2 linked regions of the Homo sapiens genome follow. The protein of the gene in region 1 interacts with the protein of each later gene in a pairwise test. Each region holds a gene or a part of one and is shown on either strand. Other genes may lie near its edges.

What was found.
Region 2: the proteins of RBPJ (region 1) and CIRSR interact in a two-hybrid assay, tested with the Homo sapiens proteins (one study listed by BioGRID and IntAct).

The regions. Positions count from the first base shown.
Region 1 is NC_000004.12:26,425,503-26,430,273, reverse strand, and holds part of RBPJ (recombining binding protein suppressor of hairless), read right to left. Parts: intron 1,555-4,771; coding exon 1,414-1,554; intron 377-1,413; coding exon 221-376; intron 1-220. UniProt on the Homo sapiens protein: Transcriptional regulator that plays a central role in Notch signaling, a signaling pathway involved in cell-cell communication that regulates a broad spectrum of cell-fate determinations.
Region 2 is NC_000002.12:174,350,143-174,355,353, forward strand, and holds part of CIRSR (corepressor interacting with RBPJ 1), read right to left. Parts: intron 1,584-5,211; coding exon 1,477-1,583; intron 604-1,476; coding exon 518-603; intron 1-517. UniProt on the Homo sapiens protein: May modulate splice site selection during alternative splicing of pre-mRNAs. Regulates transcription and acts as corepressor for RBPJ. Recruits RBPJ to the Sin3-histone deacetylase complex (HDAC). Required for RBPJ-mediated repression of transcription.

The DNA of each region.
Region 1 (4,771 bases):
TTCAAGATAACATACAAGTTTATTTACATTTAAATTTTCTGGCAAGTACGCTCCTCCTAATTTTGTTTTTTTTTCTTTAAATCAACAAATGGTGTATATAAAAATCCCCTAATCAGACGATTGGAGAAAAATCAAAACTCCCATGAAATGAAATGATGCCAGGTCACAGCTGAGAGTAGCTGCAAAGAGCTGAAGGCCAACTTGGACTAGGCGTTCTCACCTGAAGGCTCTCTACCACAGGCACAGGAGTGACTGGGGCAAGGACAGGGCCCATTCCCTCATAAAATGTATACTCTGCCTTATCTGTGCTAATGATTGTCCAGGAAGCGCCATCATTTATCATCTCTTTATTTGGTTCTTTTGGACATGGAGTGGCCTAATAAAGAAAGAAGTTTAGAAACTAAGTTTTATACAGTTTGTATTAATAGGATAAGAAAATTTTACCAAGTAACCCTCAGACAAGAGTTAATAAGAAGATAACTCAGTAAAAACTTATAAACTTTCTAAAGTATGGTGCTTTGCCAATCCCTACATAAACACAAACAGAATGCTAATACAGAAACCCCATAGACAGCAGTTTTTCTTATAATACAAACTATTTCAGTGACATATTAAATAATAATACCTTTCAGAACAACCATTATGAGTATACCAATGCAGGTACAATTTCATTAACAGCAGATCAATATCTGTGATGTAAATGGCTGTTTAAAACTCTTCAAGGACTCCTAAGAAAGACAATGGGACTCCTCATGCTTAGGCAACAGCTAGAAGCTTATGCATGTTCCATGGGAGGGAATCAAGATGGGAAGGCAAAGCCCCTACCCCTACCTTAACACACCTAGACCAGGGACTCAGCATGCCCATCAGTGTGTATGGGCATCTCTCTGCAAAGGAGTTTCACATGAAACCATAACTGTCTTATTAAATCATCTGCCCATGTCATAACCTCATGAAAGCCTTCTGAGTAAATGTAAAACATTAGCTTTCAAAGCATGTCATCATTACTATCTTCGGAAACCACGACATAAATCTGATGAGATTTTGAGCCTTCACCCAGAAAAATGCTTTGTCTATACAATGTTTGCACACAATTTCAGAGGATTCAATGAGCACTGAAAATCTATTTTTGGATATCCTGAGGGGCTCTTTGTTCTTCAATTAAGAACCCTGGAACTAGATGTTAACTGTTTTCTCTGAGAACATTTTCATAATTTTGAGTTCTTCCTTGAGGAAGGATTGCTTGCATGTCTGAGGATTGTGTGTTAAGGATGCTCATACCTGAGATAAATATCTGTGTATAGCTTCATGTATTTGTATATAATTAACAGCAAATGAAAATTTCATATTTTTGCAAGCTGCTAACCTCACAGTTTGTACATTTTAGATTTCACCAGTAATTTAAAAACATACCTGAAATTGAATTATTCTTTCTTGAGAAAGGCACAAATACATTCTTTCTGTATCCTTAAGGTAAAATGCACATTTATGGAGTTGTGACACAGGATCATCTGCATCCAATAATGCGGTCTGCTTATCAACTTTCCTAATTATCTATATTTAACAATTAAGAAATAAAAGGTCATCCACACATGGAAAGGATTTTCCTTGTGTAAAACATCAAAAGTACATAGAAGCTATATACTGCATAATAATACATCACAGTTATTTGTCCTATGCCTACATATATAAAAACATTCACAAACAAAAAGACTAGGAATAAAAAACACTTTTAGATTGCAAGCATGTCAGAATGTAGAAACTGTTACCCTCTTCCCTGAACATCTAAAAAAAAAAAATCAGGCAGGCAGGCACTTGTTTTCTAGATCAGTGTTTTTCAAACATTAATGTGCACATAAATGAGCTGGGGTTCTTGTGAAAAACACAGGTTCTGATCTAGCAGGACTCTTGTGGGGCCTGATATTCTGCATTTCTAACAAAATCCCAGTTGATGTTAATGCTGCTGGCCTACAGACCATATTTTGAACAGCAAGTTCTAATGATATTTTCCAATAATATGCATAAAATGACAAATACTCCAACATCAAAGGGAAAAATCTCTAGAAGGCTACTGTCAGTGCAAACGTCTTATATCTATTATCCAAAACTTACGTATTTAAAAACATAACAAAATCAAACTCATTTTACAGATTACAAAATGGGCTTAGAAAGGTCAGACAAATTGCTCAAAATTACCAGTTTAGTAGCTGAAGGACCAGAATATGTCCTGATCCCAGGGCTGGCTGCCTGTCCAACTGATCTCTAAAGCTTATAACGCAACTAGTCTACAAAACACATGAATATCTGAAAGATAATACTATCAAACCCTATATGACACTTGACACCTAGAAGGTAATGGCTAAGTAGATGATCATGATGAAGAGCAAAATTTGACACAGAACTTTTACTCTGTTTCCTTTTCTATTGATCACTTCCAACAACATACAAACATAACTATCTCTCATCTCAAAATCAAAAGTAAAGAAAACACTGACTACATGCTCCTGTCCCTCCCTCTCACTACCTGTTTTTCTGCAAACGCCTCTTCCTCACTGTCCAATCTCCTGCAATCTCTCCAACCTTTTATCTCAAAGACGCCACTACAACTGCTTTTCAAAGCCACCAAGGATTTCCAGACAGATGCATCTCACGGCACTTTTCTGTCCTCATTTTACTTCATTTTCTCAGAAGCTCTCAACACATTTTGCTTTCAGGACCACAACTGCTCCAACTGACCTTTAAAATGCCCAGAGCTGAGTTCTCAGCCCTCTTTTCCTCTCTTTATAATCTATACTGTTTAAAAATTTAAAGGTTGACAACTCCCAAATTTATTATCTCCAGACTTCTCTCCTGCATTCAACTTGTATGTACACTTAACTACCTATTCAACATTTCCACTTACGATGTCTAACAGGCACCTCAAGCTTAGCATATCGAAAACAGATTTTTGGATTTCCTCCTAAACTTGATCCTTCCCCAACTCATCTAGGTCAATAAATGGCACTAGCATTCACTCAATCCAAAAACCTTAAGAGTCACCCTTGATGCCTTGCTTTCTCTCACACCCAACCATCCAATCTGCCAGCAAATTCTGTCAGGTCCACTTTCCAACAAATCAGTCACCCCTCACCACCTTAATACTATGATCCTGGGTCTAAGATAGCATCAACTCTTGCCTCAATTATGACAACAATCCAAGCACCTGTCTCTCTGCTTCCACGGCCGCATTGCTATGCTCTCTTCTCCACACAGCAGCCACACATATACTTCTAAACAAAAATAGGCCATCGTGCCCCGTTTAAAATCCTCCAGTGGCCTTCTAACATGCAGAGATAATATGAAGTCCTTACCCTAGATACAGAGAGGGATCCTACAAGGTCTTGCTTAGTGCTAACCTTACAGATTCAGTTCCTGCCACTTGACCTCTCCTCCCTCCGCTCCAGCTCCACTGGTTTCTTTACTAGTCATCATACATCCCCTGCCTTCAGTTCTGTACTTGTTCTGTTTGCCTGAAATGCTCCTCACTCAATTACCGGTTCTTTGACTTCATTCTGGGCTCTCTTCAAATACTGCGACTTCAAAAAGACTTCCCTGACCTCTCTAAGCGCTCCTCCAATTCTCTATCCCTTTATTATCTTGTTTTGTTTTTTCATCACTACATAAATCCTTTACATGGGTATTTGGCTTATCACTCTATCAAAATGTAAACTCAATGACGAGAGGCACTCGACTTTGCATGTCAGAATTCCTGTCATGAAACCCCTGGAAAGATTTATGTATCAGCGTCTTAATAATGGTACTGCAACTTTTTCTAATAAGTTAATTTTTCATTGCAACATTTTTATATAAAGCCATACAGTTTTGAGTGTAAAAACCTCAATTAATGACTTTCAAGCAAGGCAGGCTACTGGTACTTTACAAACAACTGTAAATGAAAACATTGTTTTAAATTTGGGTCTGTCTTCTAAGTGGTTTGTATTATAAACTATTGGTGATCAGAATCATCCTCCTAAGTTGTGCTTCTGCAGTACAAGCATTTAACACCAAAGCAAATGAACATCATCCTTGGAACAGAGGAAATGAATGAGAAGAGAAAAAAAATGAATAAATGCTGATTCAGATTTTTTGCTTGCTTCTGTCTCCTGCTCTGTTTTTCATGCCCTTCATTCCCTAACGTTACCCTTTTTATTATAATTTGTCTCAGCTGCAAAGCTTTACAGATTACTATTACTATACTTCATGTCTTCTAGCTTATTGCATTGACATGGGAAATAAAATCACCTTGTACAATCATGACAGAGGGTAAAAAAAAAAAACAGTAACAAAGAAATGAATCACTGGCTTAGAAAACTGTAGATCAAACCAGCCTCTGCTGAAATGACCCCAGAAAATATAAGCCAGTGGAATATTGCACCAAAAAGATAAATAGGAGGCATGTTTAGGAACATTAATACTAAATGTTCTTCTACTCACCCAACCTCTTCAGTCTGACCTTGAATCAAACTTACTCATAAATCCCCTTCATCTTGAATATAAGTAAATTATATTGTTTGAGAAAAGGAGAGGGAAAATTGGGAGGGTGGTGGCACTATAGAGGACTTTTGTTTTCATTTTACTAACAAAAGTAGTTTTTACAATTTCAAGATCTCCTTTTCTGTGGTTGTTGAGATAGGATCTCATTCTGTTGCCCAGGCTAAAGTCCAGTGGTACGATCACCGCTCATTGCAGCCTTGACCTCCCGAGCTCAAGTGATCCTCCCACTTAAGCTTGA
Region 2 (5,211 bases), on another chromosome or scaffold:
TAGGTTCTGTCTAGCCATTCTCAAAACTCTACATACTGAAAGCATCATGAGCTCCCTCTATTGGACCCAGCAGACATTTCTTGGATTCTTTTAATTCAGAGGTAGTCTGTTTAACAAAATTCACGTTTACCTTAAATTTAAGCATTCTTTCTGCATTCTCATAAAATTTTACAAAACATTTTAAAAATGGCCAAAAATGTTTCCTAAGAACAAATTGTGTGCGAAGATACACACAAATCTATTTTGAAAAGTAAAAGCTATAAATAAGTCTAATTCTAAATTAAACATTCTGAAAAGTGCAATCGTTTTGTGGTACAATCTGAGTATACAATCTTACACTCATTTCCATGTTACTGAAAAGACAGACAAAATTGTATTAGCTATGGGTGAAGAATAATCAATAAATGTGATGCATGGTATAAGGACCTTCATGAGCTCTTAGGATCAGAGTTGAATACGATACTGAGATGAATACTAAGGAAAAAATAAATCTATTAAATATATACTTCTAAATTACCTGAGAAGTTTCTGTTTTTGTTTGGTTGTTAGTGACTTTAAAAATTCAACTTCTGGATCTTCTTCACCCTCACTTGCAACATACTCCTGAGTCAACAAAGATATCATTAAATTGCTAGATTTCAACACAAGGTAGTTAGTAGATAAAAAAGAAAACATTTATAAATAAGTTTTGTATCAGGGACACACTGTAGATGAATATGATATTTTGGATTGGGAAGTGGGAGAGAATTAAAAAATTTTTTTGTAGTCTCCCTGCCGAAGTGGATCATACAGCACTAAGAGGTTAACATGACTGCTTTGCCAGCATTAGGAAACTTTTCCAGGAAAAGGATGATAGACACACACAGATAAAATGTTTAGAGCATGACTTCCATTCTCTATCTCTTGAATGTTAACTCTTGCCAGTTTAAATACTTTATTTTTAATTTAATGAAATATAAAAAAGAAGATTATGAGTTTTACAGGAATGTCAAAATATCCACAATTTTAGCTTTTATTATAATTTCAACAGCACATTATCAAATATATAATAATATAGCCCTTCAAACTCAATCATTTTCTGGATCTATGTATAGTTTAATAAAATAAATAAGTTTAAAATATTTTCTACAATTTTTAGGAGTTTTTACATACTTCTAACCATTGGTTCTATTTAATGTCATATCAGGGGTAAGTTAGCAGGAAGGAAAAACCAACAACCTCATCACCAGTTCAGTTAGATATTTTATCCACATAAACTCAGAGGAGCAGTTTCATTTATTAAAATACAGGTTTATAAACAATTTCTCATTTAGATTAAAATAATAAAGCAAAATCAAAACACATTTTGGGCATTTTCTTTGCTCTATCTTACTTTCCTATGGATATATGCATATTGGAAAACATTAAGTAGCAATTCACAAGCAATCACATTTAGATTTATAGACATTTTCAGCTTACTGATAAAAAGATCATTACCTGTGATGGATCATTTGCGGTCAAGTTTCTCCCCAGTACATTTCGTTTCAGTGCAAACCCACTGTTTCTCATCTCCGCTATTAGCTCCGAGGGGTGCATCGATGGCCCTGTTCACAAAAATCACAGTTTGAATGTATCATTTATATCTCTCTACCTTTTTCGGACTCCACAGTAGGAATGCAGTTGAAGCTTTGTTAAGTAAAATCACAGCTAAATCAACTCAATAATCTTCTGCTGAGCAAATAATCAGATATGATTTTCTAAAACAGCAGTCTGGAGATTCAGAATAGAAAATAATTGCATTTTTCTTTACGTGCAAGGGGAGTCTTCTTATGTAACTTTGTCATATTGAAAAAGATACATTTAGATGTTATCTGGTTGGCAGTTTTTAGTATAAAATCAAAGCAAAATATTATAATAAAAAACTACAATTAAACTTTTAGTAGTTATTCTCTCAGTAAGAGTTCATTTAAAAGATGTATTTTTAAAGGTACATGAGGAATTTATCATCCTTATTTCCAATTCAAAATTCCTCATCCTTATTTGTCAAATAACAATACTGAATACATTGCCAAGTGGTTGCTAATCACACACACACACACACACACATACACACACACACACACCTATGGGTAACCACCAAGTACTTTAATTAATCTTGCTTTTATTCCCAGATTTCAAAATTTTTAATTACTAGCTTGGGTTGCTAACAAGCAGTTTTAGGCTGGCTATTGGTATGTATGTTTTATATTTTTTTACACTACACTTCCACTTTTGCAAAATCTCAGACTGAAAAGTGAGCTTTTTGTTTCCCAAATATGAACTAACAATAAATTTTAAAAATTTTCAGCTGGGAGTGGTGACTCATGCGTGTAATCCCAGCATTTTGAGAGGCAGAGGCGGGAGGATCACTTGAGCCCAGGAGGCCAACTTGGCCAACATGGCAAAACCATGTCTCTAAATAAATAAATAATTTTTTTTTAAAGGTTTGCCCCCTGCCCTCAAACATAAGGTTTATGTAAGGTAAGAGAGACTCTTATCTCATTTTGTATATTCCTGTTTCATTTTGTTTTCCCTGCAGATAGCAAACTAATGACAACATTTCATGGCAGCTATTTAAAGTTGCCAGCCTAAATCACCTACACTGGCTTAAATGACGTACTCCAGCTGATGTGTCTGTCACTTAGGGAAGAATGAGACAGTTACTGCCAAAAAGGAGTTCATACGGGAGGGTAGGGGGATAGAAAAATATTCAGAAATGAGTTCTTTAGTTTGCTGGTTGAATACTTTGTCTATTTCTTTTTACTGCTTTGTTGGTCTTTTACCACTTATTTGCGCACTCACCTGCATATTATCATGGAAAGCAAAAGGCAATCAGTTCAAATTTGTTTACCTGTCAATAGCAGATGTGGTTAAAAATTTGGTGAGAAAAACTCAGTTATAAGATAATATATTTTACTGGACTTTCCAGGCTTTACCATTCCATTCATATTGCGAAGAACAACTGTAAGTTTGCCCTAGGTACTAGGGAGATGATGGGGAAAAACTGTCTATTATTGGAGTATGGGGGAAGTTATTAATGATGTCATAGTTTTAGGAAAAAAAGCCTTATTTAGTTAAAAACAAACAAAAACACCTGTCTTATATTAATATTTCATTTTAAACCAAGAGGGTTTTTAATTTTTTTCTTCTATACAAAATGTTTAATTCCTATGTATTACTTTAATGGCCCTTTAATTATTCAGTCTGGTTGTTAACATTGATAATACAATCTTAAATAAAATTGAATTTTAAATATTAATACTGGTTGCCTCTAAATGGCATAGAGGTGCTCATACAATTAAGAGCTTTTTGTGTGTGTGTGTGTGAGATGGAGTCTTGCTCTGTTGCCCAGGCTGGAGTGCAGTGGCACGATCTCGGCTCACTGCAACCTCCGCCACCTGGGTTAAAGCAATTCTCCTGCCTCAGCCTCTGGAGTAGCTGGGATTACAGGCAACTGCCACCATGCCTGGCTAATTTTCGTATTTGTAGTAGAAACGGGGTTTCACCATGTTGGTCAGGCTGGTCTCAAACTCCTGACCTCGTGATCTGCCAGCCTCAGCCTCCTAAAGTGCTGGGATTACAGCCGTGAGCCACCGCGCCCGGCTCAATTAAGAGCTTTAAATGAATAATAGAATGTTTACTTTGGTGGCTTCTCAAATTTCACATGTAGGAACTTAATTTTATAAAGTAGAAAATGTCTCTTCTGAAGTGTCAAAACTACATTTCCTTGTCAACAATTTTATTAGATATCGAATGAATTCAGACACCAAACTTGTTAATAATTAGAATAAAAACCACTCCAATAAAGGGTCACAAAGCTTGGCCATCATGATGAGAGGTTATACTAATTTCATCAGTTTTCATCACAAGATGGGTAATTTTAATAAGATGTTATAGAAAGCATGCCTTCTTTACAGTACTTCCAACTATGTCAAGAAAATGATGTATTTCCCCAGTGTTACAGAGATTATACAGACTATTAAACAATCATTACTCTTCTAGCATTTATATTTTTCAAAAATCCCAACTGAAAACTCTGTGTAGTATATAAATTTAGCACACTTTCACAATGTATGACTGTAAATAGAGTGCTTAGTGAAGTGCTCGACAAATAGTACTTAATAAAGAGTAACAACTATTATTTTTACCAGTACCTATTCAACTTTCTTATATAAGAAATTGTCTTTTTATAAGATATATTATATATGTACATATATTACTTATATATGTACATATATATTTTATATATTATATATAATATATATTATATGATATATATAATATATTATATAATATAATATATAAAATATATATAATATATATTATATTATATAAATTATATTATATATATCATATAATATATTTTATATATTATATAATATATATTATATTATATATATTTTATATATTATATTATATATTATATATATCATATAATATATATTATATTATATATTTTATATATTATATAATATATATTATATATTTTTATATATTATATAATATATATTATATATTTTATATATTATATAATACATATATTATATATAATATAATATATATTATATAATATATATTTTACATATGTATATATATTATATATATATATATTTTTTTTTTTGGTAGAGACAGGGTTTTGCCATGTTGCCCAGGCTGGTCTTGAATGCCTCAGCTCAAATAATACACCTGCCTAGGTCTCCCAAAGTACTGGGATTACAGTTGTAAGCCACTGCACCCGGCCACTATCCAAATTCCATGACTATCTTACGGTACTTTTCATAATACAAAAAAATGCTCTTAGTAGTAATACTTTTCACAATGCAGTCTTATTCACATTTTTTTTATACTTAAACCTTCTCCTATCAACCAAAGTTCTGAGTTTAAAGTTCTAGGTTTAGGAGATGAAACAAGTCAGGTTTAATCAAGATATATTTAGCAAGTATCTTTCTACTTTCACATTATTATGACAGAGGCTACGTAGAGTTACACTGACAGAAATGACTCCAGATCTTTTGAGAACTCAAAATTTGGTTGATAAAATAGATGATTACAGATACGTTGATAAAATAGATTACACAAATATGTTCAAATGTAAAATAACTACTTTTATGTATGGTGCCTTAATAATTTCAATTATAGCTGGAGTTGGATCTTAAAAATTGTTTGGCTTATTCTTAAATTTGTCATGGTAGA